2 separate regions of the Homo sapiens genome follow, and region 1 is linked to region 2. The links come from fine-mapping of genetic effects on gene expression. A gene starts in region 2. The other region holds a variant in brackets. All regions are shown on one strand. Distances are from middle to middle.

Region 1 (15,651 bases), 140 kb after region 2:
GGCCTCTGGGAGCCTAAGGCCGCGCCCCTGGGACGCCCCAGCCCCCTTTTGAGTGAGTTCCCGTCTGGAAACGCTCAGGGCTGCCCAGAGCATGTACTGTCTGTTCCGGCCAACACCTGACCTCCCTTTCTGACAGCATTTACTACAAAGGGCTTACCCTGTCCCTTTGAGACATCTGTGTAGCACCCACAACCCAGGGGCTTTCCCGAGGGCCCCGCAGCCACTCCTTGGAAACGGAAACCTCAGGAGGCGCGGGGCCCAGTCTCCCAGTCTCCACGGGACGGAAGCATCCCAACCTTGGTAAGCACCGGCAGCTCCCACACACGGCTGGCCTCGCGGCAAGGACGCTGGCTGCCCCGTCATCTTTCACCTGAGCCTGCACTCGCCCCCTCCCGACTCCCTCCTTCTCCCTTCGCAAGGCCAGGCCGCCTCTGCTGGGGCGGGAACGGAGCTCAGCTCTCTCCCCCGCAAGCAGGGGTTTCTGAAGAAGATCTCTTTTGCCAGCTTGAACAAAGGCCCGCTTTTGTGTACCTTTGTGTATCTCCGGTGTTCTTGTCAAAAGAGGAGGACAGGCACAGAGGCCCGCGGGGACAAGGCCACAGGATGACGGAGATGGAGGCTGGAGAGGTGCAGCCGGCGGCCCCCGGCGCCGTGGAGAGGCCTGGAAGGCAGCTCCCTCGCGGCCCTGGCGGGGAGCCCACCCTGCCGACACCACCGCTAGCTCAGCCTCCAGGCCTCCAGAAGCGGGAGGCCACGCGTTTCTGTGGCTTCGGCCCCGCAGTCTGTGGTGCTTGGTCACGGCAGCTGTAGAAAACTCATCCACTTCCCACACAGGAAATCAACGCCTTAAGCCAGGCGCTCTAAGCCCTGAGTGGAGCGGCGTGCACAGCCCACCATCCACGCCTTTCCCCAGGGGAGTGGAGCCTGGCTGTGGCAAGTGCCAGGTACCCGCCAGCAAGTCTCCTCTCCAGCACTTCTCTCCACCTTGCCCCTCAAAGGGAGCACGGCCCCTTCCTGACTACCATCGCCAGGATCCTGCGATCAGCCAAGCCCACACACAAAGACCCTGAAACCAGGCGGTCTGTGCTAATGACACGATTTATGGGGGGAGCCTTGGGCCACACAGCTGGACCTCTGGTGGCTACAGCCGAGTGACCAGGGTTGGCCACGCAGGCGCTCGGTGCCCACGCGGCCCACCCCCCGTGAAAACCCCGGCCGCCACGGCTGGGGTGAGCTTCCCGGTTGTGACTCCGTGCTCGCTGTCCCACACTGTTGCCGAAAGAAACAGGTGCCGTCTGCACAACTCCCCTGGGCGAGGAGCCGCTGAAGCTCACGCCTGGTCTCTCCTGGAGCCCGCCCTGTGCGCCCTGAGCCTTCGCTCACCGTAACCTGTGTCCTTTCCTTGTAATAAACCGGAACTGGGAGTGTGACGGCTTTTCTGAGTTCCGAGCCCTCCCGGCACAGCACTGAGCCCCAGGGTGCTTTGGGGGACCCCGACCACGGGTTCCCTTGTGGAACACTGGCGTCACCGCGGGTTTTCAGAACCTGGCCCTGCCCCGACTACCTGCTGGCATCTCTTCAGGTGCTCCACCTCCCGCAGAGCCTGCTCCTTCTGCCTCTTCAGATCGAGCTTCTCCAGGCCGAGTCTCTCCACCAGTTTCCTGGCCTCCTGGAACTTGCACATGAGGAACTCCTTCTCCTCCCTCTGGCTGGCTTGGAAATGCAGAAGCTCCTCGCAGCGCTCCCGCAGAATCTGGTTGCTCTGCCGGATGGCATCTGGTGGCAGAGGGGACAGTGGAGGGGAGCTGGGCAGCCCGGCCTGCCGGGCCCTGCCTGGGCCCACATGGGCCTGAGGCTCAGGAAGTCAGAGGCCAGAAGTGGGACCACCCATCCTGGTGCCCCCACCCGCCATAATACCACGCAGCTTCTCTCAGGGGTGGATGGCGTCTCAACACTCCCTTTTGTTTCTTTAAACACTTCCAAAATCCTTTACACTAATGCCCCTCACTTTCTGCAAGAAAATAACACCAAACACATCAGCTTCACTTAAAAGTACGTCTCAAATGTCACTTTAAAAAATTTTTTATTTTTGGCTGGGTGGGGTGGCTCACGCCTGTAATCCCAACACTTTGGGAGGCCGAGGTGGGCGGATCATGAGGTCAGGAGATTGAGACCATCCTGGCTAACATGGTGAAACCCCGTCTCTACTAAAAATATAAAAAATTAGCCGGGCGTGGTGGCGGGCACCTATAGTCCCAGCTACTCGGGAGGCTGAGGCAGGAGAATGGCATGAACCCCGGGGGGCAGAGCCTGCAGTGAGCTGAGATAGTGCCACTGCACTCCAGCCTGGGCGACAGAGTGAGACTCCGTCTCAAAAACAAAAAAATTTTTTTTATTTTTGTAGAGACAGGGTCTTGCTCTGTGGCCCAGGCTGGTCTCAAACTCTCGACCCCAAGCGATCTTCTTGCCTCGGTAGGTACACACGCAAAAACAGATGGCCGCAGCCTTCCACACGGCTGACTCTGCAAACAGCGAGATTCTCCCTCTCCCACAGGGCAGTGCGCTCGCGGATACTCCTTTCTCTCCATCTCAGGGACTCACCTCTCTGGGTGTCTGCATGGGAGCCTCGCCCATTCCCCCTCCTCACCAACCTGGCCATTCCGGCGCCCGTGTGGGTGTAAATTGGGGGCATCTTTCAAGACAGGGCAGAAGGAGAACCTGCTCTCTGTCTGCTCTCCACCTCAGGGAGCCCTCCTGCCCTCTTGCGTTTCCTCCTGGGCCCTTGAGGCCACTTGAGGGAAGAGAGGGGAAGCCTAACACACTGGAGACACAGCTTCAGGAAGGAAGACACAGAGCTGAGCCAAACAAAGGAGGCCGCTCTGGGAAGCTCAGGGAATGAGGCCCCAGAGGACAGATGAGCATCATGGGCAGAGCGGGGTCAGATTCCCCGTGAATTCAATACCTCAGCCAAGCAGGGTTTACATCCTAGGGCAGGAGGGGAAGAGGCAGCTCCAATTAAGGAAGGGCCGCCCTCTGGAGACAGGCCCCGGGTCACTCCGGGGGTCTCCCTGCAGCGCCTGTGGTGTTGCTCCCAGACTCAGTGGGCCAGCAGGTCCCTACCTGACAGTTACTGTGCTCCTGGATCTTCATCTTTGCTCCCTGGGCTTCTGCTTTTGTGCCCGTGATGTTGGCTGCAGGGGCCAGTGGCTCAGCACCTGGTCAAAGTTGTCTGGATGCAGTTACAGCTGCAATGCAGCTGGACTTCTGAGTCAGCCCGGCCAGGGTCGCGGCCCTGGGGCATGGTGACCTCTCCCGGTGCTGCTTCCCCTGGGGCACGGTGACCTTGCTGGGGCGGGCACATGCTGGACTCGTGGCCAGGTTTGCCCGGGCCTCCCCGTTTCACCAGGAGTCAAACTCCTCTAACCGCGTGTGACGACCACTCTGCATGTTTGAGAGGACGGAAGTTAAGTGGACTCTTCAGACTTGACTTGGAATTCTGGAATATGAGGGCTAGAGGGAAGCATTAGGGACCTCTTCACCTGAGGCTGGGGTGTGTTCTGCCACAGCCCTGACCCATGCTCCCACCAGCTGTGACAGAGCCCTCAAGGGCTGGAGCGCTCACTGGCTCCCAAGGAATCCCGCTGGCATGACAGGAAGGTCTCTCTGACATTGCTGCTGGTCTTTCAGTTTTCCTTTGCGCACCTCGGGCTGAAACAGAGCGAGTTCACTGCGTCCCTGCATTCCAGGAAGCTCCCCAGGTCTCAGCGTCCTCTCTCAGCTTCCATCCGTCCCTGGCCTTGACAGAGAGCCGGGCCTCTCCTAACACACCACCGATCCAGAGGAGAAGGAAGCCGCTCACACCCTCCGGGGCAGGCATGCGGAGGTGGCATTCGCCTGGCTTCCTGCTGGGACTTCCTCACAGCGTGCCCACGTCTCTTGGAAAAACTCCTCTGCTCTGAGACAGAACCGGCTTTGGCACAGCCTGGATGTACCAACCCCCCTCGCCTTCCTCAGTTGTGCAGTGATTTGTTCAGCCTTTCCGCAGCTGGTGGACATTTACATTCTAAAAACTATTTACGTGGTGGTGTCATTAAGATGCTGGTGGATTCTACCTCATTTGCATATCCAGGAGTTTCTCAGATGGATTCCTCAAGGTGGGTGGAAGGGAATGTACATCTTTCCCTTAATAGAAAATGCCAAATAAATGTCCAGATAGATGTTACTACCACTCCTACTGACAGTGTATGAGTCCTCGTTTCCAACTACAGCCTTGCCAAGCATTGGAGATTGTCAACTAATATTATTAATCTTACATTAAAATCTGCTATGTTCCCACCGAGCAAATGCTAAAACAAAACTCAAAGGGATCAAGTTGTCTCCGAGCAACTTAAGAGCATCCCAGAACACAGCTCAAGCATATGTCTGTTTTGCTTTGACAAACAGCCCCTTTCCAACCTAGCTCTGCCCAAGATGGTGCCAGCGTGACCTCCCGGCAGACAAGACACCTCAGCATGTCATGCAGACCCCACAGCTGCCTGCTCCCTCCCCTGCCTACCATTCACGCCAAGTCCTCCTTTAAAAGGCCCTGCTTTCTGCCCCCAATGGGAAGCAGTGCTCTTAAAGGCAGGAGCCTGTACGTCTTCCCCTAAACCAAGCATGGCAGAAAGTCAGTTTCTTTACAGGAAACCTTGCTCTTGTTCATTAGACTCTGCAAGCAGTAAGAGAATCTGTGTTAACATTACGTGTTTACAAACATTTTACGCTGTTCACATTTACTATTATTATTACTTTAGAGTCAGGGTCTCGCTCTGTCGCCAAGGCTGGAGCTCAGGGATGCATTCATAGCTCACTGCAGCCTCGAGATCCTGGACTCAAGCCACTTTCCCACGTCAGCCTCCTGAGTACCTGGGACTACAGGTTCCTGCCACCACTCCCTCCACCCCTAATTTTTAAATGATTCTTATAGAGATAGAATCTCACTACATTGCCCAGGGTGGCCTCCAACTGCAGGTCTCAAGCCATCCTCCCACCTGAGCCTCCCAGAACAATGGGAATACAGGTGTGGGCCACCATGCCCGGCCCATATCACATGTTTAACAGTGAAATAATGCTGGTTTTATGCATCTATTCAAGTACATGTTTTTGAAGCATTTTTAGAAAGCACAAAAGCTCATATGTTCAATGAAAACAATTTGGGAAAAAATTTAATGCTGACCTGGAAAAACATTATATATGCTACTGTCATATATTTAACATATAAATGCAAGTATATTGAGGAAAATATTCTAAAATGTCCACAGTAGTTAATGCTGAATGGCGGGACCCAGTGGCTTTTCATTTTCCCCCATTTCCCAAATTGCCTCCCGTTACCTTGTGCTACTTCAATCTGTGAATCCCAGAGCCTCCCCTACAACCCGAGGACAAGGGCATGCAAGTCCGAAGGTGCCTTCGCTCGCCGAAAAGAGACTCAGACACGGAATCGTAGCTCAGCTTTATTTTCTACAGAAACAAACATGTAAGCCGTCCTCCTCCAGCGACAAACAATCAGGCCCCCACAATGAACTGGCCACTCGTGCTGGGACCATTCCCTAGGGGAGGAGGCATGACCTAGGAAGGGGCGCCAGGCTGGGCTTAGCGCCTCTGCCCTGAGGGAGCCTGAGCCAAAAACACGGGCAGAAAGCACTGCGTGATCCACATCAACAGGGAAAGCTGCTGGAGACAGGAGCTGATGGAGAGCTGCAGTTGGCGGTGGTCTGCAGCAGTCAGTCGGCTAAATGTGAGGGGCAGAGAACATCACATTAAAGGCGACACCTCTGCACCCATCTCCCTGGGCTCCCTCGGGTGGCGGCGGGCCTGGTGTACCAGGTCTCTGTTCTGAGACCTTGTGTTTGGGTGTTCTGAGATCTCTAGCTTTCTGCCCCTCCGGGGAGGCGGATCCCAGCCCCCAACCCACCACCCTCATCCGCCCAGCGCCTTCCCTGTCCTGGTCCCGAACTGACATAAACAGTAGGTTGCCGGACACGGTGAAGTCCTTCAGAACCGCCCCTGGTCGGGGGAGCGGTGCGGCATCCCGGGACAGGATCCTGCGGACCAGCTCCGCTTCCATGGGCGACGAGAAAGGCATCGTGATGTGCCTGGTGGGGACCCAGTTAAGGTGCCATCTCCTAGGATTTGGCCGGTGCCCATCTCATCCCCTCAGGCTGTCTCCCCACGCACTGGCCCAGGTCCTGCAGCAACCCCACCCAGCTGTCTTGATTCCCCACTTTCCTCTGTTGCACCTCAAGCTGACTCCTGCGTGCCCTTCCAAGGCCCTCCCCACCATGCCCCCTGCCGCATCAGCCGGGACCTCTCCCCATCGCTTGACACCACCCCCATCCAGCCCACACCCCAGCCACCGGCTCCCACCTTGCACGCTTCCCCCCAACTCCTGATCCCTTCACACACCCAAGAACCCCTGTCTCCTGTCCCCCTGCCCCTCACCCCATCGCCCAGCACCCAACTGTGCACACGCTCCACCTCCCATCCCCTACCTACTCCCTTCCTCTGAGCCACCCCTCGACCTCCAACTCCCAGCCCCCACCCCCACCCCACCCGGCGCCTTACCCCCATCTCCCAAACCCCACCTTCCGCACCTGGCCCTGCCCTCACCCACCTCCTGGCCCTGCCCCCCACCTCTTGACCCTGTTGTCTCCGTCTCACGGCCCCCACCTCGCCACCAGAACCTCCTAGAACAGAACAGAACAGGATACAACTCAAGCA[G/A]GCGGCTGTCCGGCCTCCTGGCCCCGCAGGGGCACCTTCCATCCTGCGCAGAAGCGGCACCGCCATGCGGACCCCGCGGGGCGCCTCCTCTCGGCCCCGAGGCCCTTGCTGCCCCTGCGCCCCGGGGACCTCTGCCGCCCGTGGCACCCGCCTCTCCTGGGCCGCCAGCATTGCCCCCTGGGCCATCAGGAATGCCAGGGCCTCCTGGGCCATCAGCATCGCCCGTCGAACCCCCTGTGCCCCGGCCTTCGGCCTGCATGGCTCCGGAGCCTCTGCCCGGCTCTCAGAGAGAAGGTCAGGGCCCACGAGGATGCGGAGGCAGAGAGGCTGCAGGAAGTTCCGCCCCCTGGCGTGAGATGGGCAGCCCGGGATCCTCAGGGCGCCTGCGCACAGGGGCCCTACTTCCGGCCCTGGGAGACCCCGAGTGAGCCCCGGAGCACGTGACCGGTTCTCACCAACCCCGCCCCTCCCCAAGAGAGCCCGGGCCGGAAGGTGGCCGCAATGCCAGCTTGGACCCCTCACCCCTGAGCAGCCGGCTGTCCGCCGGACCCCTGTCCCGGGAGCCCTGCAGGGAGTCAGGCACTGCGGGGCCCAGCCTGTCCCATCCCCCGGGTCTCCCTCACATCGAGGAGCAAGACGGGCCTGGGAACACGGGGCCGGGACTGTGCGGCCATCGTCCCGGACCCTGTCTGCCCTGTCCGTCCTTGGGGGAGCGCCCAGGACAGACCCCGGGGGGCAGGCCTCTAACTGGGCTCAGCAGCCTCCGTCCCTGTCCTGGTCGCCCAGCTGGTGGGGTAGCTGGAACTGCATGTCTGGTGGGCGTGGCCTCGCGCCAGCCAAGGTCTCCCAGGCGCCAGGTCCAGCCAAGGTGGACGGGAGGGCCCAGCGGGACCCGGGGCCGGATCTCACTCCTGGGTTCAACGGGTTCTGTCCCTGTCCTAGTCGCCCCGCCTGGTGGGGGAGCTGGAGCTGCGTGTGGGGTGGGTTGCGGGTGGCCTCCCACCAGCCAGGGGCTCCCGGGCTCTAGGCCTGGCCCAGGTGGACAGGCGGGACCTGCTGGACCTGAGGCTGGGTCGGGCCTGGCTCCTGGGTTCGGCAGTATCAGTCCCTGCCCTGGTCGCTCTTGCCTGGTAGGGAGCTGGGAGGTGACCCTGTGTCTGCTGGGTGCTGGCTTACTTCTGTGTCTGGAAGGGGGTCAGATCCACAGGAAAGGTGCTGCGAGAGGCGGGCAGGGGTGGGGGTGGCATGGCCCTAGGAGCTGGGTGTCTGTCCCCACGCCCTGTTCACAAGTCTGTGGGGCGAGAGGCTGCAATACTCCATCCCGGGTGTCTGGGCTGCTCACCAGGCCGGCTCAGGCTTCCCACATCCTGTACCCTGGGTTGGGCATGAAACCGATCCAATCGTCCCATAGGCTGTTCTTTTTGATACACATAGAAACTGACCCTTCTGGTCTTCAAGCTTGAACCTTACAGTTGTTTTATCTGAATTCCTTCCTCAGGAAATGACCTTCGGGCCTCTCAAAATATCAAAGAACTGAAACTCACCAGATAACCACATCCAGACAATGAGATGCTGGACCCCCCAAATTCATCAGGATTGCTTTCTGGGCCCTCCCGAGTTCCTGTTTTCCTACACATTGGTGCATTTCTTCCTGGCTATATAAACCCCTAGTTTTAGTCAGGGGGATGGATTTGAGACTTAACTCCCATCTCCCCGGCTGCAGCACCCAATTAAAGCCGTCTTCCCTGGTAATGCTCTTCGTCTCAGTCAGTCATTGGCTTTCTGTGCGGCCAGCAGCAGGACGTAGACCAAACCCTTGGTATTTCGGTAACAGGCACACCCCCAGGAAGGGACCCCGGACACGGCTACCACCTCTAGGCTTAAAGCGAATGCACTTCCCGCATCTCCAGTCTTCCGTGTAGCAGCTTTAACCTATGTATGTCTGTGCCACATCCAGTCCTCAGACGGCTGAGTGACCCCAAGAAAGGCTTCCCCGACACCCAGACAGAGGCTGCAGGGCTGGGGCTGGGTGAGGGTGGCGGGCCTGCGGGGACATTCTACTGTGCTAAAAAGCCACTGCAGACATAGCAATAAAAACATGTCATTTTCCAAAGCAGGCTCCTGCTTCTGCCTCTGCTGCTCTAAGAAGGGGTCAGGGTGCAGGAGGCAGGGGGAACCTCCTCCAGCTGGAGCTGCTGCGGTGAGCAAGGCTCTGCTCTGGAGGCCTCTGAGGCTGGCACCCTTCTGGGGACTGGGAAGGGGGCAGGGAAGGCAGCAGCCCAGGGAAAGCCTCGTCCCCCTGGAGCCGAGGCAGTTGGGGAGAGCAGGACGAGAGTGAGCTGGAGAGCAGCCACACCGATGGGTAAGGGTGGGTGAAGGGATTCCACAGGTGTCTAGAAAACTGGAAAGAGCTCCTTAGCAGGTCCAGGCCCCAGGTGTAGGGGAGGACCAGATGTGGAGGATGAAGACGGTTGTCCAGAGGGATCTCCAGGCGTTGGCATTATTGGGTCCTACTGAGATGCTGTCAAGGAGAAAACACAGGCTGTGTGTGGCAGGGCGACAAATGAGTGCTGCTGCCAAGCTCTGTCCTGTTTTCTGTGCACGTCTCAGAGCCCCTCCAGTGACCGTCATCTCCGGCCTCCTCCTGCGCCTCTGTGTTCGTAGACATCTTCTCACATCTCAGATCCTGCTGAGCCTCTGGGCCCCCTGCACGTGCCTTCTGCCTCTCGGCTGCTGGGGTGGGGACCTCTGTGCCCTGTGCCAGCGCCTCTCCTGCAGCTCACAACACATCTGCTTTTTCTCCTGCGCCCTGCACAGGGTGGGCCTGGAAGCTCTGGGGAAGTTGTACCCTTGGACACAGCCCCCCACCGATGGGGCCAAGAGTCACTGGATAAAAGTCTTAGTCTCTCACCCTTTGAAGGACAACTCTGAGGTGCGGCTGACTGTGGAGCGAATGAAATGAAACGGATGCACGGGGATGGGTGTGGACAAAGGAATGCCGACTTCTCAGGCTGCCGATACATATCTCAGTAGAAGCACGGGGGAATGCTATATAGAGAAATATTTCTATAGTATCTGAAGTGTTTAGAATGTATTGACCTAATATATACACAATAAAAGTAAAAACATTGGAAGAAAATTTAGATGAACTTTATTTGATTGTTGGAATGGAAAAGACTTTTCTCTCTTTCTTTCTTTCTTTCTCTCCTTTTCTTTCTTTCTTTCTTTTCTTTCCTTTTTTTCATTATTATACCTTAAGTGCTGGGGTACATGTGCACAACGTGCAGGTTTGTTACATAGGTATACATGTGCCATGCTGGTTTGCTGCACCCATCAACTTGTTGACCTAGCAATCCCATTACTGGGTATATACCCAAAGGATTGTAAATCATTCTACTATAAAGACACATGCACATGTATGTTTATTGCAGCACTCTTCACAATAGCAAAGACTTGGAACCAACCCAAATGCCCATCAATGTTAGACTGGATTTTAAAACTGTGGCACATATACACCATGAAATATATGCAGCCATGAAAGAGAATGAGTTCATGTCGTTTGCAGAGACATGGATGAAGCTGGAAACCATCATTTTCAGCAAATTAACACAGGAACAGAAAACCAAACACCGCATGTTCTCACTCGTAAGTGGGAGTTGAACAATGTGGACACAGGGAGGGGAACATCACACACCGGGGCCTGTTGGGGGTGGGGGGCTGGGGGAGGGATAGCATTGGAAAAGACTTTTCTAAGCCTACTAGCAATGAGAATAATAATAACCAATAACATTTGTTGGGTGGTCACCATGTCCCAAGCCACTGTTGTAAGCACTAGACAAGAATTGGCTCATTTATCCAGAAATACACCACATTTTCATTGTCGTTATCCTTGGCGGTGAGATAACGGTTGGTTTTTTATTTTCTCTTCCGAACTTGCCCATATTTCCTCTTCTTTTGCAGTGAACATGTATTACATTTATAAGCAGAAAGCGATTAAGAAAGTTATTCATTACTTGCTGTTGAGGAAAATTTCTAATTAGCTCTGGAGTGAGCCAGTTTGCCAAAGTTTAAATTAGCCTGTTCAATTCATTGGAGGCCATATTTTTCCTCTGAAACTTGTTCTAATTGGCACCTTTTCTTGATGTAATGAGGCGGACGGTGCCGTGATGAAGTCTCTGAAGTCACCGAGCCTCGGGGCCCACGCTAGACACCACGGGGCAGATGTCGCCCGGCTCTCCTGGTCATCTCTGTGGCTTTCAGCCGCTTCCAAAAAACAATTGTTTCCAAATTCCACACACACAGTTCATCCTACCTTGAAAGTTATTCCTCCAGAGGGCTGTTGATAGTTTGCTTCATCAGCATTTTGTCACTATTACACACTGAGATTTTTTTTTTCTTCTGCACCTTGGAGGTACTCATGAAGAACACATGTGTGCTTAAACACAAAACCTACCGAGGCCCATAACAGCCCCTCCCCTCCAGAGGGCCGGTCCTGGTCCACACACGCTGGCAGACAGTCTTTGTGTTTCCGAATCAGAGAAGACTTGCTTGGAATGGATGAAATGTATTTGAAATCACATTAGGCATCATCTGGAATGGTGAAGCTTCAGAGGTGACAGGGCCAGGATGTCTATATTCAAAGAGGGCCATTGAATTAAAGTTAAGCAGGGATCTCTTTGCTTGAATTCCAGAGTTTCAAACCAGCACAGTCATGTGAGCTTGGATGGCCTGTAGGTACTTCCAACCCAACCTGCCCCCAGCTGACCTCACTGCCTGTCCCCCGACTCCCGGAATGGCTTCCCTCTGCTTCATTCTCTGTCTTGGCGACACGCGTTTCCATGGTCCCGCACTCTGTCATCTCACCTTCCGTCCAGTCAGTTTCCTTCAATGTGTCCTCTCCACCCTCCCTAGGCCAGGTCGGCATCATCTCTCACCTATATGATGAGAACAATCTCCCCCGGTCTACACAGATTCCCGGCCCCTTTCCTAGGAATTTGGCCTGAGTGGGGCGGTCTAAGTGGGGATGATGTAGGCTGGCCTCATATGGCCCAGGGGGAGGGCCCAGCCATACCTACCAGGGCTGATGAGCACGGCTTGTTTCGCCCTGTGGGGGTCATTGCAGGCTCTTGTGCGGGACTCGGGATGGGGGTCTGTTGGGAAGCCCCGGATGGCCTAGTGTCCTGGCCTTGAGCCTTTGGTCTTCTCTGAGCGCCCACCCGCCATCACTTGAGAACAGTGAAAGGCAGCTGTGTTGACCCTTTGAGCAGCATGTGGCCGTTCCTAGGTTTGGTGGTAGGGGTGAGTGACCCTTTCCTGTGAAGGAATGGCGAGTAACCATTGTATGACAGTGAATTGTCTTAGTGCCTAATAGCCCAGCCTACTTTGTGAGCTCCATAAAGGCAGGAAGCTTGTCTGGAGCTTTTCTGTATCCCCAGTGCCAAACCCCATAATGGGGAGACACGAGGTACTCTCTCATTCTTTCTTTCAAGAAATATTTCCTGGCCGGTGCGGTGGCTCATGCCTGTCATCCCAGCATGCTGGGGAAGATGGGGTTTAGCATGTGAGTGAGGACCACACATAGCACAGAGAGCACCCAGTCGCCCAAGCCAGAGTATGCAGAGTTGGGAAGGATGTAGCAGGGGACTGAAGTGACGTAGAAAAGACCGATCATAGTGAGATGGGCAACACAGGTAGAAAAGGCTTTTCTTCAGCCCTGGGTGGAATGAATCCTGAACAGCAGCCACAACGTGTCCATAGGAGACCACGACCAGGACGCAGTGTGCAAGAGCCACCAGAAAACTGAAGAACAGGGCAAGTTCATTGGTACGTGTGCTGAAGCAAGAGAGTCTGAGCAGTGACGGAGGTCGCAGAAGAAGTGGGTGATGAGGCAAGGCCTGCAGAACTTGGGTAGAGCTGTGAGGATGCTGTAGGTGAATGCGTTGGCCAAGGCCAGCAGGCAGGAGATGGAAGTGAGGCCCGTGTGGGTCAGTCGGCCCACGAGGACAAAGTAGTGCAATGGCTGGCAGATAGCTGCATAGAATCATAGGCCACGGCTGTGAGGAGGAAGGACTCCTAGGGTGCCAGGAAGTGGAGAAAGCATATCTGGATGAGACAAGCACAATAAAGTACGGGCCCTACCTGAGCCAGCAAATGCACCAGCACCTGAGTCACCATGTTGGAGATACAGGCGGCATCCATCAGCGAGTGGCCGCCCAAGAAGAAGTACATGGGAGTGTGGCGTCGGTAGTCCACTGTGAACATGTGGCTCCCAACCACAACCACTATGTAGATTAGCAGAAAGGTGGTGAACAGCAGGGGCCTCCAAGCCTTGCTGTCCCTCAGGCCTTTCAGAAGAAACTGGGACACTAGGGTCCCATTCCGCAGCTGCTTGGAACCACGCACAGAACCCTGCACCTGTAGTATGCAACTCAGAGTCAGATGAGGGTCTAGGTGTGGAGTCCCAACTTACAAGGGGGGGAGGGGATGAGGGATGGACTAATGACTAGGTAGGCAGGTTTCAGATTTAATGGAGGAAGACTTGTTGGTTCAATACAATGAGGAGCCTCAAATGGCCAGGCAAATCTTTCATCTCCTGTTGAACAGAACCTTTTTTGGGAGAAAGTGATGGGGATCAGCCTTTAGGGTATCCATAGATGGCTTTGCTGGCAAAACTGTGGCAGGTGGGAGGGCAGATACATATACAGAAAATGTCTCTATTCCTGGGACAAAAATCCTCCTGCTCCCTGAATGAGAGAATGGGTCCAATATAATCCACTTTCCACCAGGCAGCTGGCTGCTCCCCTTGAGGTGACAACCTAATAAGCGTTGCTTTACGTTGGGTACACGGCAGAAGTACCCAGATCAGCCTCGGTGTGGTGAAGACCATGTTGTGTCATCCTTCCCGTAGCTGTGTCTCCAGTCTCCCTGTTTGCAGAGTCAGCCCAAGCTGTGTGGAAGCCTGCGGCCACCAGCTCGTGCATACCTACCTATCTATGTGTCCAAAACTAGGTCTGTCAGCTCAAAGACATCAGGACAAAAGACACCAACCTGTCTTGTCTGTGAGGAAGGTGTTGGGGGAGGAAGAGGGTGCCTGGTGTCTGGAGTGGCTTGTGGCTTGAGGGAGCATCTCACCGAGCAAGGTCCCCACAGAGAGCCTACCCCTGGGGCTGACACCGTATCTACGTCCTGTTCTCCGACACTTTGCCCTCTGCAGGCAGCATTCTTCTCTTCTTAGGCCTGTTCAGGAGGAACCTGCAGCCAGAGAACCGGAGCCAAAACCACAGGGCCCTCTGCACCTAGGCCGGAGCATGAGTCGAGGGGTCAGACCAGGCTGGCTTCCCTTCAGTTGTAGCCAACTTAAGTCTTTGCTTTCATTCCCCAGATAATCTGACCCCGTGGAAAGTAATTCAACACTGCAGAAATGACTGAGATGGAGTGAAAGTTTACACATGCACACTCCCCCGACAACCAACAGAGTGACTACTGTTACCACACTGGGTAGGTGCTTCATAGCTAGAGTTCGTGTTCTACATATCACATAAGGCTATATCTTTGTAATTTCTTTCCTTCTACTAATGTTGTGCTTACTTTGTTCTTGTGATTCTAGTTTCTTGAAATGCAACATTAGGTCATTTATTTGAGATATTTCTTCTTTTTGGTGTACGCATTTATTGCTATAAACTTCCCTGTTAGAACTGGTTTTCCTGTATTCCATAGGTTTTGATATTTTTTTCCAATTTCCTTACTCCCAGGGAATGTTTAAATTTCCCTTTTAATTTCTTAATTGATCCATTGATTGTTCAGAAGCATATTTTTAAATTTAGATATTAATAAGGTTTGGCTCTCTGTCCCCAACCAAATCTCGATTCAAATTGTAATCCCCATAATCCCCATGTGTTAAGGGAGGGACTGAGTGAGAGGTGAATGGATCATTGGGGAAGTTTCTCCCATGCTGTTCTCCTCATAGTGAGTGAATTCTCACGAGACGTGATGGTTTTATAAGAATTTGGAAGTTCCTCCTTCACTCTCTCTTCTCTCTCCTGCTGCCTTACAAAGAGGTGCCTGCTTCTCCTTTGCCTTCCGCCATTATTGTAAGTTTCTTGTGGCTTCCCCAGCCACACAGAACTGTGAGTCAATCAAACCTCTTTTGTTTATGAATTACGCAGCCTTGGGTAGTATATTTATAGTAGTGTGGGAACAGACTAATATAGTAAACTGGTACTGCAGAGAATGGGGCACTACTATAAAGATACCTGAAAATGTGGAAGTAACTTTGGAACTGGGTATTGGGCAGAGGTTGGAACAGTTTGGAGCACTCAGAAGAAGACAGGAAGATGTGGGAAACCTTGGAACTTCCTAGAGACTTGTTGAATGGCTTTGACCAAAATGTTTTTTTTTTTTTGAGACGGAGTCTAGCTGTCGCCCAGGCTGGAGTGCAGTAGCGCGATCTCGGCTCACTGCAGGCTCTGGCCCCGGGGTTCACACCATTCTCCTGCCTCAGCCTCCCGAGTAGCTGGGACTACAGGCGCCTGCCACCTCACCTGGCTAATTTTTTGTATTTTTAGTAGAGACGGGGTTTCACTGTGTTAGCCAGGATGGTCTTCATCTCCTGACCTCATGATCCACCTGCCTTGGCCTCCCAAAGTGCTGGGATTACAGGCGTGAGCCACCGTGCCCGGCTGACCAAAATGTTGATAGTATTATGGACAATGAAGTACAGGCTGTGGTGGTCTCATATGGAGATGAGGAACTTCTTAGAAACTAGAGCGAAGGTCACTCTTGCTATGCTTTAGCAAAGAGACAGGAGGCATTTTACCCCTGACCCAGAGATCTGTGGAAGTTTGAACTTGAGAGAGATGATCTGAAACTGAAACTTACGTTTAAAAGGGAAGC
Region 2 (15,651 bases):
GTCCCCCAATATTCATCCATTTGTTCAGGCAGCTGCATCCCACCCCAAGCCGTGGTGCCTCTGTCTGGCATTTGAGGCCCTCCGGGGGCTCTCCATGAAGCACCCTCAACCTCCCAGAACCTTCCCTAGTTCTTTATTGCCATCATGCTTTTTTGTTCATTGGGTCACTCCTCTGTGGAGCCTTGCGCTTGCACAGACTCCTTCCCAGGCCTCCCTGGGAGATCTTGAATGGGAGGGGAAGGGAGGGCAAACACCCAGAGGCCTCCTGGGGAGGGAGCAGGGAAGGAGGGCGGCAGGCCACGCTCAGCCAGGGGCCTCACCGTTCACCAGGGCGATGTTCAGCCCGCGGCCCACGTTGTCCTTGACGCTGCTCATCAGCCTAGTTGGGGGGGGGTGGGGGGGACGGGGAGATCCCACATGGGCACGTCTGCTCCACTCTCCCTTGCAGACCCGGCCCTGGATCCCCCACTCCCTCCCTGATCCCCAGTCACCCCAGGGAGCTCACATCTTGTCCTCGAGGCAGATCTTGGGCCCAATGACGTTGGCGGCCCCGCTGACCACGCGGAAGGCCAGGTGCTCCTCAGGACACGGCTGGGGCAGGCCACACTTGTACTTCCTGGCCCGTGGCGCTGGGCAGGGATAGCAGGTGTTATCCATGGGCCTGGCCCTGAGGTCACCTGAGATCTGAAGGGGAGGTCAGGACCAGCACACATGGTAGAACAAGTGACCGCAGAGCAGGACACAAGTAGGGGGATGTGGCTCAGGCCGAGGCTGGGGACACTTCCATACTCTGTGTCCTACTGGTGAGGCCACAGGGACCCAAGACAGAAGGATTTTCTGTTACTGGTGGGAGAAAAGAAAGGATGCTGAGGGCTGGCCTGGGCCACTGCACAGCCAGGAACAAAGCAGGGGTGAAGTAAGTCAGGCTGGGGGTCTAGCTGCATGGATGAGGCCAACCTGAGCAAAGGCAGTGTGGCAGGGGGTAGTGTGGCAGGGGGTGCAGCCTGTCTCCCGATTTTGATGGGGGTTGGTTGGGAGGACTGGAGCAGGATGGCTTCTATTATGGGTTGAATTCTGTCCCCTCAAGGTATGCTGAAGTTCTAATCTGTGGTACTTCAGAATGTGATGTTTGCAAATAGGGCCTTTGCAGTTCAGATGGGGTCATACTGGAGTAGGTTGGGTCCTTAATGCAACATGACTGATGTCCTTATAAGAACAGAAGTGACAAAGACACACAGAGGGAAGACAGCCATGGTACAGTGGAGGAAGAGACAGGAGTGACACAGCCAGAGGCCAAGGTATGCCTGGGGCCACTGGAACCTGGGGAGGTCAGGAAGGACCCTCCTGTAGAACTTTCAGGGTGAGTAACGCCCTGCTGACACTTTGATTTCAGACTTCTGGCTTTCAGAATGGGGAGAGAATCCATTTCTGTTGTTTAAGCCACCCAGTTGAAATGGCAGTTCCAGGAAATGGATACAGGTTTTGGCACCAGGAAGTGTGGTGCTTAGGTAACAAATACCTAAAAATGTGGAAATGGCTTTGGAACTGGGTAGTCAGTAGAGGCTTGTCTTAGTCCATTTGCTGCTGCCATAACAGAATACCACAGACTGGGTAATTTATAAAGACAACAGATTCATTTGGCTCATGGTTCTGGAGGCTGGGAAGTCCAAAAGCATGGCGCCGGCATCTGGTGAGGGTCATCCCGTGGCAGAAAGGTGGAAGGTGGAAGCAAGCATATGAGACGCAGGAAAAAAGGGGGCTGAACTTCAAGGTAACTAACTCACCCATAATAGTGGCATTCATCCATTCATGAGGGCAGAGCCCTCATGACGTAACTACCTCAAAAAGGCCCTCCTCTCAATACCAATACATTGACAAATTTCAACATGAGTTTTAGAGATGACATTTAAACCATATCAAGGCTATAGAAGTTTGAGGTACATGTTAGAAAAGGTCTGGATTGCCTTTAAGAGACTGTTGGTAGGAGTATGGATGTTAAAGGTAATTCTGGTGAGAGGAGGGGAGAGCAATAGAGACAGCCTCTGTGGTCTTAGAGAATACAAATATCATCAAGAACAGAACGTTGCTAGAAACATGAATGTTAAAGGTGCTTTTGGGTTGGGTGTGGTGATTCACGCATGTGATCCCAGCACCTTGGGAGGCCAAGGCAGGAGCATCACTTGAGGCCAGGTGATCAAGACCAGCCTGGGCAACATAGTGAGACCCCGTCTCTACAAAAAATACAAAATAAGCTGGGTGTGGTGGTACATGCCTGTAATCCCAGCTACTCAGGAGGCTGAGGCAGGAGAATCACTTGAGCTATGATTGCGCCACTGCCCTCCAGCCTGGGTGAGAGAGCAAGACCCTGTCTCAATACATTCAAAAAATAAATAATAAAAAATAAAACATTAGCTGGGTGTGGTGGCACATGCCTGTAGTCGCAGCTACTTGGGAGACTGAGGTGAGAGGATCGCTTGAGCCCAGGAGTTTGAGCTTACAGTGCACGGGGATGATACCACTGAACTCCAGCCTGAGCAACAGAGTAAGACCTCTGTCTCTACCAAAAAAAAAAAAAAAAAAAAAAGGTGCTTTTGGTTAAGCCTCAGAGGAAAATGAGGGACATGTTATTGAGTTATTGGGCGCTGGAGGAAAGCTGATCCTTGTTATAAAGGAACTTGGCCCAGGTGTGGTGGCTCACGCCTATAATCCCAGCACTTTGCGGGGCCAAGGCGGGAGGATCACTTGAGGTCAGGAATTCGAGACCAGCCTGACCAACACGGTGAAACCCCATCTCTACTAAATATGAAAATTAGTTGGGTATGGTGGCAGGTGCCTGTAATCCCAGCTAATCAGGAGGCTGAGGTGGGAGAATCGCTTGAACCCGGGAGGCGGAGGTTGCAGTGAGCCAAGATGGCTCCACTGCACTCCAGCCTGGGTGACAGAGCAAGACTCCGTCTCAAAAAAAAAAAAAAACTTGGTTGAATTGTGTTCTAGTGTTTTGTCGAAAGGAGAATGTGTAAGTGCTGGGTGCTGAACTTGGATATTCAGCTGAGGAGATTTCCAAGCAGTGTTGAGAGCGTAGCCTGACTTCTCCTTGCTGCTTATAGTAAAATGTGAGAGACATAAGGAAGAAACTGTTGAGCACAAAGGAGCCAGAAAGCGAAGATGTGGAAAATTCTTGGCCTAATCATATTACAAAAACTGCAAAAGTGTCCCCTGGACAGAACAGCAAGGCTGTTCAAGCGTTTGCCCCAGAGCTGAGGTATGTGACTCGTGGGTCCACTCAACCCTTTCAGCAGAAATCTACAATGAAGATGGGGTTATCTAGGAAGCGTCTGTGGGAAAACTCTCTGATTTTATAGCTTGGGCCTCTATAACTTGCAAAAGAGACCAACAAGGCTCTTGAGAATCTGACACCAGCAGAAACACTGCCGGCCTGGAGTGAAGGGGGCAGAGATGAGATAAAGGGAAGGAAGGGTGGCCCCGAAGGTGGGGCTGTCTCGTTTCAGAGCATGGGTCATTCCAGCAGGCCCAGAAGAAAGAATCTCAGGCCACAGAGGATTCCCCTCAGGCCTTGAAACCAAATGAATTTTGCCCTGCTGGGCTTTGGACTTGCTTGGGACGGGTGACCTCTTTTTTCCTTCCAAGTTGCCCTTTTGCAGTGGGAGTATCTATCCTAGGCCTGCCCCACCGTCATATTCTGGCAGGAAGTAACTTGGCAGGAAGTAACTTGTTTTGTAGGTTGACAGTGGCAAGCAGCCCCCGTGGACCACCACAGCTGGTTTGGGGAGGAATAAATGGAAAACCGAAGCCCTACGGGACCGGGGGCAGGCAGGGATGTCACAAAGGGGAGGAGCAGGGAGGTGACAGGGGCCTTACCTGCAGTCACCGAGCTCTCTGGACCTGTGGATACAGAGTGGTTTCTGTTAGTGTGGAGCCTCCCGGGGCCTGCGGCAGGGCAGCCTGGCCCTCCTTACACCGCGAAGTGTAGACACAGGCAGTCAGGCTCAGGGGCCGGGGGCTAAGCCAGGCCGACCTTGGCATGCTTCCTGCTCAAGTGTAAGTCATGTTCAGATGAAAAACTCCCTACTCTAGGAACAGGGGGAAATGGAATTAGAAAAACTACTTAGATGACCTGGCCGGGCATAGTGGCTCATGCCTGTAGCACTTTGGGAGGCTGAGGCGGGTAGATTGCTTGAGCCCAGGAGTTTGAGACCAGCCTGGGCAACATGGTGAAACCCCATCTCTACTAAAAATACAATAATAATAATAATAATAATAATAATAATAATAATAATAAGAAGAAGAAGAAGAAGAAGAAGAAGCCGGGTTTGGTGGTGCGCACCTGTAGTCTCAGCTACTCGGGAGGCTGGGGCACTAGAATCGCTTGAACCCAGGAGGTAGAGGTTGCAGTGAACCGAGATTGCACCACTGCACTCCAGCCTGGGAGACAAAGTGAGACACTGTCTCAAACAAACAAACAAAAAAGTACTCAGGTGACCTATTACCAGTCAACAAGGTGGAGAGTCCCCTCTCCATCTCAGAGCCTGCAGGGAGCAACCGGGGCATCACTCCCCATGTTCAGTGGAAGCTCCCTACCCCTTACTCTGGCCCTACTGACTCCAGTTGGGCATATAATTCTAGTGATCAGGTATTGGCTTTCCTAGATGAAGCAACTGGGTGTTGGGGGAGGCTGCGCCTGATGCCAGGAGACAGACTGGGGACAGCCAAAGGTAGCCTGCCAGGGAGGAGATAGAAAACCCAAGTCAACTCCCAACCCAGAGCCTCAACCACAGGCCCAGGTGGCCACCTTGGTGGCCTCCAGAGAAGGATAAGGCGGGGTCCCACACTCACTGGTGAAGAGTTGCTGGATGCGAGGAAAGCCACTGCCAGGCCCACCCAGGAGGATGCTGACCACGATCCATGTGACACCCACACTGACGACTAGGACCACAATGCGGAGAGGGCCTGGAGGCAGGATAGACACAGGGTGGGGTCACCTCAGATACCAGCGAACCCCAGAATGACCCCATAGCCTTGCATGACTGGATCTCCCCTGCCACTTGGGAAGAAGTGGCTGGAGGACAAGGAGGTGGAGACCTGTTGCCTTCTACCAGGGCTGAAAGGGAGACTTGAGCTCCCTGGCAGGTGGAAGGAGGAAATTGAGTTCAAATCCCAAGGCTGCTGGGTTTGGTTTTCCCTGGCGGGTCTGGGAGGGGGCCTTCCAGAACTCTCTGCTCGAGAAGGGCTCCAGCCCTCTTTCCAAGAACCCCCTCAACTTCCTGCCTCTGAAACCACCAATATATTTGGGCATCCACCTGCCCCTGCTTTCCTCCTGTTCTGAGGGAGAAGGGTCCCTACTCCCTTTTAAGACCAGTCCCGGCCGGGCGCAGTGGCTCACGCCTGTAATCCCAGAACTTTAGGAGGCCGAGGCGGGTAGATCATGAGGTCAGGTGTTCGAGACCAGCCTGACAAAGATGGTGAAACCCTGCCTCTACAGAAAATACAAAAATTAGCCGGGCATGGTGGCGCGCACCTGTAATCCCAGCTACTCAGGAGGCTGAAGCAGGAGAATCAGTTGAACCTGGGTGGCGGAGGTTGCAGTTAGCTGAGACCATGCCACTGCACTCCAGCCTGGCGACAGAGTGAGACTCTGCCTCAAAACAAAAACAAAAACAAAACAAAACAAAACCAAAACAACAACAGTCCCGTCATCTGCTGGGACCTGGATTGCAAGCTCCCCAGCCTTCTCTGATTTCTTGTAATAGTGATCACTCTCTCTAGTTCGCTCTTTCTCCTGTATTTTCAACATCTCCAATGTTAAGGAAGCAAAGAAAACACTCTTCTTCAAAACCACATCCCCATCCTCTTTCCCCTAACCTTTCTTTTCCCTGTCAACCCCCTCAAAAGTCATCTATACTCATTCCATCATCTCACCTCCTACTCCCTCCCACCCTACTCCAGTCTGGCCTGGCTTCCACCACCTCACCAAATCAGCTTGTTGCCAAGGCCACTGATGACCTTTGTGGTGTCACCACCCCTGGTGACCTGTCAGCCTTGATCTTCCTTGACCTCTCAGTGGGCTGCCCATGTCCACCTGACAGAAGCACTAACTTCTCTGCTGGCTTTCCGGACAGCACACTCTCCTGACCCAATCTCTCTGGACACTCCTCATTCTCCTTAGTTAGATCGTCTCCTCTACCCTCCCCTTAAAAGCTGGACTTTCCCAGGCTCCCATCTCAGGCTGCCTTCTGGTCCCTACCTGTAGTGTCTTTTTATTTTTTTTATTTTTGAGACGGAGTCTTGCTCTTGCCCCCCAGGCTGGAGTGCAATGGCGCGATGTCGGCTCACTGCAACCTCCGCCTCCTGGGTTCAAGCGATTCTCCTGCCTCAGCCTCCCAAGTAGCTGGGATTACAGGCGCGCACCACCGTGCCTGGCTAATTTTTTTTTTTGAGACAGAGTCTTGCTCTGTTGCCCAGACTGAAGTGCAGTGGCGTGATCTTGGCTCACTGCAAGCTCCGCCTCCCGGTTACACGCCATTCTCCTGCCTCAGCCTCCCTGGTAGCTGGGACTACAGGCGCCCGCCACCACGCCCGGCTAATTTTTTTGTATTTTTAGTAAAGACGGGGTTTCACCATGTTAGCCAGGATGGTCTTGATCTCCAGACCTCGTGATCCGCCCGCCTCGGCCTCCCAAAGTGCTGGGATTACAGGTGTGAGCCACCGCACCCGGCCATGCCTGGCTAATTTTTGTATTTTTAGTAGAGACGGGGTTTCACCATCTTGGCCAGACTGGTCTCGAACTCTTGACCTCAGGTGATCCACCCGCCTTGGCCTCCCAAAGTGTTGAGATTACAGGCGTGAGCCACTGCGCCCAGCTGTCTTTACTTTTTTGAGACGGAGTCTCGCTCTGTCGCCCAGGCTGGAGTTATGCGGTGGCGCAATCTCGGCTCACTGCAACCTCAGCCTCCCGGGTAGCTGGGATTACAGGCACCCGCCACCACGCCAGGCTCATTTTTTTGTATTTTTTTAGTAGAGATGAGGATTCACCATGTTGGCCAGGCTGGTCTCGAACTCCTGACTTCAAGTGATCCTCCCACCTCGGCCTCCCAAAGTGCTAGGATTACAGGCGTGAGCCACCGCGCCCGGCCTGTAGTGTGTTTTTAGATGATGTCATCTACTCCTAGCTCTTTAATTAAGCACCATGTGTCAATGACTTTCTATTTTCTAGTTCCAGCCGTGGCCTCTCTTGAAACCACTCCCTGCCAGCTGGTTCCTCAGTGGCCAGCTCCACCTGGATATGTCCACAAAGTTACCACCTTAGCAAGTCTGAAGTCCAATTCCCGAGTTGTTTCTACTCTCCACCCAGCCCCAACCTATCCCTCCCCAAGGATCTTCATCTTACTTGTCCAGGTGACAGTAGGGCTGTCATCGGGTTCATGTCGAAGCCCACAGCCACTTTTGTCACTTCCCCTCTAAGACCACGCCTCTCCACCTGGACTGCCCACCTCCTCTCTCTCACCACTCATTTTCCAAAAAGCAGCTGGTCTGCTACCTGCGTTGGGAGATACTGACTATACTAATCCTCATGTCATAGCTCGGGGAGCTGACGTCCTCAGAGGTGAAAGGATTTGGTTAAGGTCAAGGAACGAGTGTTTGTGCAGAGTCCTCCATTTCCAAAACCAAACCCAGTGGTTCACCCGGGCCTCTCCAGACACAGATGTCGCGACGCTGGGCCTCCAGCCAGGTGCCCTTTTCAACTCCCTCCCGTTCGCTGTGGAAGCCACCCACCTGCCAACCTCATGTCCACTTCTCCTGCTGGGTTGGGACCGCCGGCAAGTGCACTGTTTGGGGGCAAAGCGGAAGGACAGGTTTGGGTGGGGGTCAGGGGCAAGCCTGTGCGGGACCCCTGCTGGGGGCGGGCGCGATCGGTGCTACGACCTGTTTGTCCAGCCGCCCGGCCAGGCAGGGCTCCTCGGAAACGCGCGGGGAAACCCTGCCTGGCCAGGAGGGGCCTCAGGAACCCGTTGGCTCACGATCTTGCCCACAGGAGCCTCCGGGGCTGGGACGAAGATGTGGTTCTCCTGGGCTCGGGCCGTTCCTCCGGGCCTGGGGGCTGGCGATGCGGGCCGGGCCGGAGATTTCTCTGGCCGTGGGGAGACGTGGGCTCGGTCAGGGAGGTTCCCTGTCAGGCCCGCCGACCCGCTCCGCCCCGGGAGAGGACGCAAGGCCGCTGCGCAGGGTGGCCAGGCAGGCCCGGCAATGGCGGCTAAGGGCGGGGCCACAGCCCGCCGGCCCCGCCCCCGGCAGCAGCTGCGCCGTCTGGCTCCACGCAGGCCCCGCCTCCAGACCCGCCTCTACCGCTCGCGCTGGCCGCCGCATGGGAGGGGCCTGAACCTGTCCCGCCCCGAACCTGTCCCGCCCCTGGATCCCTCGTCGGCCCCACCTCCGCAGTGCGTTCAGGCTGAACCCACCGGCCGCCGAGTGGGAGGGGCCCACGTCGGTCCCGCCCCGGAAGTCTCCCCTCGGCCCTTTCTCGGGTGGGAGAGCCCTGCCTACCCAGGCTTAGAGGGCTGGGGCTGCGCTTGCACCCTGAGGTCAGATTTGTGAGTCGTGGGAAGACGCAGATGGATCTGGGGCAGAATTAGAACCTGTTCCAAAGTTGATCCATGCGCTTTGTAAAGGCAAGGGAGGTACAGAGGCGCAGATAGGGAAGACCGCAGGATCCAGCGTGAGCCTCTGGCTGCCTTTCCTTAGGGTCTGTTTTCTGTCCAGAAGCGCGTTCCTGCTGTCTCTCGTTATCACTTTTATAATGGGACGGGGCGTCTCAAACTATTTCGACATCCTTGAAAACTCTTGCCTGCTCCGCCTGCCTGGTCTCTAACACCCTCCTCCTCAGAGCTGCTCAAGCTGTGTTGTTTACGCCACACCCCACCCTAAAAGCAGAGGAGAATACAACTTTCGGGGGCAGTGGAGGGGGGAGTTTAGCGCTATAACCCGAGGCTTTCACAGCAAACCAGAATTTATTTTGAGGCCTCTCAGGTTCAGCTTTCAAGTCACGTGACTTTCGCGTCCTACACAACTCTTATTTTCACTTGAAAACAAGTGTGACGTCGTGAATTCCCTAACAATAGGAAAAAAGAAGGCTCCAGAAAGAGCGGTGCTTGGCTTTCCCAGCGGCTCCAAATGGTGCCCGGCACCCAGCTGGCTGTATGGACCTGGGGTGGTCTCCGGCCGCAGGCAGACGCGGCCCTTCGGCCTTTCTCCAGTCACCCCAATTCTCCCTGACTGCCTGGCTATCTCCCCTCCGCGCCTGCCCGCACGCTGCCCCCAACACTGCCCGGGCTCCCTCTGCCCATGAGAACACGGGTCAAGCTCCCGTCCCTTCTGCCCTGCCGGCTGCCCCAAGTGCGCCCTGACCACCTACTGCGCTGGCATGGCCGGGGCCACCCTGACAGCTGATCCATCATCTGTCTGGAGAGCAGCAGCAGGGCCCAATGAGAACCACGGAAACCTCCCTGCCCTTTGACCCAACTTACGGGAATCTCCTACCCTTAGGGAAACAATGCAAAATATAGAGAAAGTTTATAGAGCCGGGCATGGGAGAGCCCTGGTTAGAATCCAGCAGCTTCTATACTGGAGTACTCAACAGGGTCAAGGTCCCTTTCAGCTGCCTGCTGCTGGGGCCAGGGCTTTGCATTTGCGTTTTGTCATGGAATTTGACAGCCTCTCAAGTAATTATGGTAACGAATCTTGGGCTCCATGCCCTCCTCAGGGGGGCCCAGTCGAAGAAGCTCCAGGTTACTCACACCCTTGAGCTGCCAGCCGGTGTTTTTCAAAGACAATATTTACATGTTGTTCAGAGCAGGCATTTATGAAAGTGTTGCTTTAATGAGTCCCCCTGAGCATTCCGAGACAACTCTCCCTTCCTTGGGGACACCACGTGGGTGATGGGCCAGAGGCCTGGGATTCAGTTCCACGTCTTCCGTGCTTCCTGGGGCAGCCTTGCAAAAGTCCCTTATTTTCTCTGGGATGGTTTGGATTCCTGTGGGGGTCTGGCCAGCACGGTGACTAGAGCACATGGTCTGTCACCATCCAGGCCAACGTCCTGGGGTACACTCACAGTCATCTGTTCTTCCAGGTCAGCCCTCATAGATCAGGGCAGCTTCAGCAGTTCTCAAATAGCAGATGTTACAAAATGGGGGTGGGCAATCCTGCAGCAGACGTCTCTGCACTTTCTGTTAGAAGGACACCCCAGGTATTTTTGAGCACTGTTCTGAAGACGGAAAAATCCAGAGTATACATACACTTAAAGCTGGGAGGGGCACCTGCCGGGGAGAATGCATAAGGGATAGAAACAAAAATAGAGGGCCGAAGCCTCTGCCAGGCAGAAGACACTGAGTTCTCAGCAAAGAGAACACCTTTCAGTGCTGTGGTCAAAGGGATGTCAAGCCTCCTGAGGCCCGGAAAGAGCAGGAAACTGAGGGCAGAATTGGAAAAAATCAAGTTACAGACACACACCACGGGATAACCTCTATACAGAGAGGAGCACACCCAAAATAATACTATATATTTATAGATGTACTTTTGTATTGGGGTAAGACATATATAACATAACATTTGCCATCCAAATCATTTTAAGTATACGATCCTGTGGCATCAGTTACATTCACAATGTTGTACAACCATCACTACTATCTTTTTGTGTGTGTGTATATTACTTTTTTTTTTTTTTCCCCCGAGACAGAGTCTTGCTCTGTCTCCAGGCTGGAGTGCAGTGGCTCAATCTTGGCTCATTGCAACCTCTGCCTACCAGGTTCAAGCAATTCTCCTGCCTCAGTCTCCTAAGTAGCTGGGATTACAGGTGCCTGCCATCATACCCAGCTAATTTTTATATTTTTAGTAGAGACGGGGTTTCAACATGCTGGCCAGGCTCGTTTCAAACTCCTGAGCTCGTGTTCTGCCGGCCTTGGCCTCCCAAAGTGCTGGGATTACAGGCGTGAGCTACTGTGCCCGGCCATGTATTACTTTTATGGGCTCATATATATGTCCATAGAAATATAGAGTTCTTTTAAAAATTCTATCAATAGATATTTCTTTTTCTCTTTTCTTTTCTTTTTTTTTTTTTTTTTGAGTCAGAATCTCACTCTGTTGCCCAGGCTGGAGTGCAGTTGCGTGATCTCGGCTCACTGCAACTCCTGCTTCCCGGGTTCAAGTGATTCTCCTGCATCAGCCTCCCGAGAAGCTGGAACTACAGGCGTCTGTCACCATACCCGGCTAATTTTTTTGTATTTTTAGTAGAGATGGGGTTTCACTAGTTGGCTAGGCTGGTCTCGAACTCCTGACCTCAGGTGATCCGCCTGCCTCGGCCTCCCAAAGTGCTAGGATTACAGGCATGTGCCACCATGCACGGAAATCAATAGATATTTCATTTCCACCAATACAGAAGCATCAGTTAACAGTGACTGGTTGACACTTTTAGAAAGTGGCTTGAGAAGGGCCCTGAATGAGCCACCTACGTGGAACACAGAATTTGAGATGTGCAAATGTGGAGACCTGAAGGCTTGTTATGGGAACAAAAGGTGGCTGTGTATAGAGAGGAGCGCAGATAAAGGGGACTTATCAGCAGTCGCAGGGAGTTCATGCTCAACAACTGGCAACAAGCGGGGCAGCTACAGGCTACTCAACTGGGGATTGATGCGCGGTGCCTCTGAGGTTCAGCTCTGGGCCTGATCGTCCAAGAAAGGGCAGCTAAGGTGGGCATAGTGAATCACGCCTGTAATCCTAGGACTTTGGGAGGCTGAGGTGGGCATAGTGAATCACGCCTGTAATCCTAGGACTTTGGGAGGCTGAGGTGGGCATAGTGAATCACGCCTGTAATCCTAGGACTTTGGGAGGCTGAGGTGGGAGGATTGCTTGAAGCCAGGAACTTGAGACCAGCCTGGGCAACAAAGTGAGACCCTGCATATATATATATATATATATATATATATATATATATATTTACACAAATAAATAAAGGGCAGCTAGACTCCACAGAAACCATGTTGAAGATTCCTGTGCAGGAAGGGGGTGATAAAATGCAGAAACCTGACCTGACACAGCCAACACATAACTGCATTGCCTCATTTTTCACGATTTTTTTCTTTCTTTTTGGAGAGAGGGTCTCATTGTGTTGCCCAGGCTGGAGTGCAGTGGCGCAGTCACAGCTCACTGCAACCTCTGCCTCCCAGGCTCAAGCGATTCTCCTGCCTCAGCCTCCTCAGCAGCTGGGATTACAGGCATGTGCCACTACTGGCCGGCTAATTTCTGTATTTTTAGTAGAGACGGGGTTTCACCATGTTGGCCAGGCTGGTCTTGAACTCCTGGCCTCAAATGATCCACCTGCCTCGGCCTCCTAAAGTGCTGGGATTACAGGCGTGAGTCACCACGCCCAGCCATTAATTGCCAAGTCTCATTGGCTCCTAGTGTCTTAATCCACATCTGCTAAAGTTGTTTAAGGTACAGCTAAAACATCACCCAGGCTGGGCTCAGTGGCTCACACCTGTAATCCCAGTAATTTGGAAGGCCCAGGCGGGAGTATCACTTGAGCCCAGGAGTTCGAGACCAGCCTGGACAACACAGGAAGACCTTATCTCTACCAAAAATACAAAAATTAGCAGCATGTGGTGGTGCACACCTGTGGTCCCAGATACTTGGGAGGCTGAGGTGGGAGGATCACTTGAGCCCAGGAGGTCAAGGCTGCAGTGAGCTATGATCACACCACTGCACTCCAGCCTGGGCAGCAGAGCAAGGCCCTGTCTCAAAAAAATAAAATAGGGGCCAGGCACGGTGGCTCACGCCTGTAATCTCAGCACTTTGGGAGGCTGAGGCAGGTGAATCACCTGAGGTCAGGAGTTCAGGACCAGCCTGGCCAACATGGTGAAACCTCGTCTCTACTAAAAATACAAAAATTAGCTGGGCATGGTGGTACACGCCTGTAATACCAGATACTCGGGAGGCTGAGGCAGGAGAATCGCTTTAACCTGGGAGGTGGAGGTTGCAGTGAGCCGAGATTGTGCCACTGCACTGCAGCCTGGGTGACAGAGCGAGACTCTGTCTCTAAATAAATAAATAAAATAAATAAATAAATAAATAAGGCTGGGTGCGGTGGCTCACGCCTGTAATCCCAGCACTTTGGGAGGCCAAGTGTAGGGAAAAGAGAGATCAGACTGTCACTGTGTCTACGTAGAAAGGGAAGACATAAGAGACTCCATTTTGAAAAAGACCTGTACTTTAAACAATTGCTTTGCTGAGATGTTGTTAATTTGTAGCTTTGCCCCAGCCACTTTGACCCAACCACTTTGATCCAATCTGGAGCTCACAAAAACATGTGTTGTATAAAATCAAGGTTTAAAAGGGACCTAGGGCTGTGCAGGACGTGCCTTGTTAACAAAATGCTTACAGGCAGTATGCTTGGTAAAAGTCATCGCCATTCTCTAGTCTCAATAAACCAGGGGCACAATGCACTGCGGAAAGCCGCAGGGACCTCTGCCCTGGAAAGCCGGGTATTGTCCAAGGTTTCTCCCCATGTGATAGTCTGAAATATGGCCTCGTGGGATGAGAAAGACCTGACCGTCCCCCAGCCCAACACCCGTAAAGGGTCTGTGCTGAGGTGGATTAGTAAAAGAGGAAAGCCTCTTGCAGTTGAGATAGAGGAAGGCCACTGTCTCCTGCCTGCCCCTGGGAACTGAATGTCTCGGTATAAAACCTGATTGTACATTTGTTCAATTCTGAGATCGGAGAAGAACCGCCCTATGGCGGGAGGCGAGACATGTTGGCAGCAATGCTGCCTTGTTATTCTTTACTCCACTGAGATGTTTGGGCGGAGAGAAACATAAATCTGGCCTACGTGCACATCCAGGCATAGTACCTTCCCTTGAACTTAATTATGACATAGATTCTTTTGCTCACGTTTTTTGCTGACCTTCTCCTTATTATCACCCTGCTCTCCTACTGCATTCCTTTTTGCTGAAATAATGAAAATAATAATCAATAAAAACTGAGGGAACTCAGAGGCCAGTGCAGGTCCTTGGTGTGCTGAGCGCCGGTCCCCTGGGCCCACTATTGTTTCTCTATACTTTGTCTCTGTGTCTTAGTTCTTTTCTCAGTCTCTCGTCCCACCCAACTAGAAATACCCACAGATATGGAGGGGCAGGCCACCCCTTCACCAAGGGGCCAAGGCAGGCGGATCATGAGGTCAGGAGTTCGAGACCAGCCTGGCCAAGAGACCAGCCTGGCCAATATGGTGAAACCCCCGTCTCTACTAAAAATACAAAAATTAGCCAGGCATGGTGGCGGGTGCCTGTAATCTCAGCTACTGGGGAGGCTGAGGCAGGATAATTGCTTGAACCCAGGAGGTGGAGGTTGTGGCGAGCCGAGATCATGCCACTGTACTCCAGCAGCCTGGGCAATAAGGGTGAGACTTCATCTCACCAAAAAAAAAAAAAAAGCAGCTCCACTAGGAAGACTAAAATACTAAAATGATGGTGTGCTAACTTGAACAGTTAGGTTGTACAAGAAAGGACTTGACAGTTCCCTTTCTGATGTCCTCCAAGACATGGGTTCCATTTATATGCACCTTGTTCTTTCCTCAGACCTGTAACTTCAGCCTGGAGTTGAGCAGAAACATGGCTTCCTTGTCTTCAAGTCATTCTTGGGCTTCAGAGCGAAGATGCTGGACCTTTGAACCAACAAGCAGGTTACTGGTACCTTTGCCCTGAGAATACGCTGGTGGTGCTTGTGGCTGCAGTGTTTACCCCGAGATAACTTTGCCATGAAGTATCTTCCTTTTATTATTTTTTCATCGCTCTAGTATATCGACTTTGGAAACAAAAGACATCACTCTATTTAGAGCATTCCTTTCTTAGTAGTGGTATTTCCATTGACAAAAAAATAGTAATTCTGAATTGCCGAAAATGTCAAATCGTAGAAAATGTTGTTAGCCGAAGATTCATCTGATGAATCAGATTTTTCCAAAATAGATGATTCTGATGTTAGTTCTGTTTAGAAATAACTCCAAGTACAGTTTTTATATATTATTTTCACATTGAAAATCAGTCAGATTTACTTCAGCCTCAAAGAGTGTGTTTATGTAAAAATAAATGAGCACTGGCAACCTCCGCCTCCCGGGTTCAAGCAATTCTCCTGCCTCAGCCTCCCCAGTAGCTGAAATTACAGGCGCCCGCCACCACACCTGGCTAATTTTTGTATTTTTAGTAGAGACGAGGTTTCACTATGTTGGCCAGGCTGATCTTGAACTCCTGACCTCAGGTGATCTGCCTGCCTCAGCCTCCCAAAGTGCTGAGATATATAGGTGTGAGCCACGGCACCCGGCTGGCTTTTCAATGGTATATGGGAATGAGCTGCTTGGTCAGCTGGATAAATGTACTGTCAGCCTCAGGACTGCCTGCATTCACCCTGGGAAGCAGTCAAACCCCATGTGATGGGTCATTGGGTCATGAGATGCTGGAACATCACTGTATTGCTGGCTTTGGAGAAAGATAGATTTTTTTTTTTTTTTTTGAGACGGCGTTTCACTCCGTTGCCCAGGCTGGAGTGCAATGGTGTGACCTCGCCTCACTGCAACCTCCGCCTCCCGGGTCCAAGTGA

The links.
Region 1: its variant is fine-mapped to the expression of FAM3A in monocytes after LPS (Fairfax 2014, PIP 0.92).

The regions. Positions count from the first base shown.
Region 1 is chrX:154,646,498-154,662,148 of GRCh38, forward strand. It overlaps CTAG2 (cancer/testis antigen 2), which reads right to left and starts at 7,082. Exons shown (of 3, transcript NM_172377.5): 1 at 6,750-7,082; 2 at 6,000-6,134; 3 at 5,480-5,770. The coding sequence starts at 7,018. The coding sequence ends at 5,632. LOC105373387 (a long non-coding RNA gene) reads left to right here and starts at 7,238. Exons shown (of 2, transcript XR_938543.3): 1 at 7,238-8,507; 2 at 8,594-8,872. It also overlaps the pseudogene IKBKGP1 and the pseudogene OR3B1P. The variant G/A (reference allele first, on the strand shown) is at 6,760.
Region 2 is chrX:154,507,969-154,523,619 of GRCh38, forward strand. It overlaps FAM3A (FAM3 metabolism regulating signaling molecule A), which reads right to left and starts at 8,264. Exons shown (of 9, transcript NM_021806.4): 1 at 7,792-8,264; 2 at 4,855-4,968; 3 at 3,880-3,903; 4 at 506-629; 5 at 321-379. The coding sequence starts at 7,804. LOC124905229 (a long non-coding RNA gene) reads left to right here and starts at 7,512. Exons shown (of 2, transcript XR_007068357.1): 1 at 7,512-7,747; 2 at 14,637-15,161. RefSeq lists enhancers at 7,532-8,155, 8,156-8,778 and silencers at 8,129-8,538, 8,754-8,910.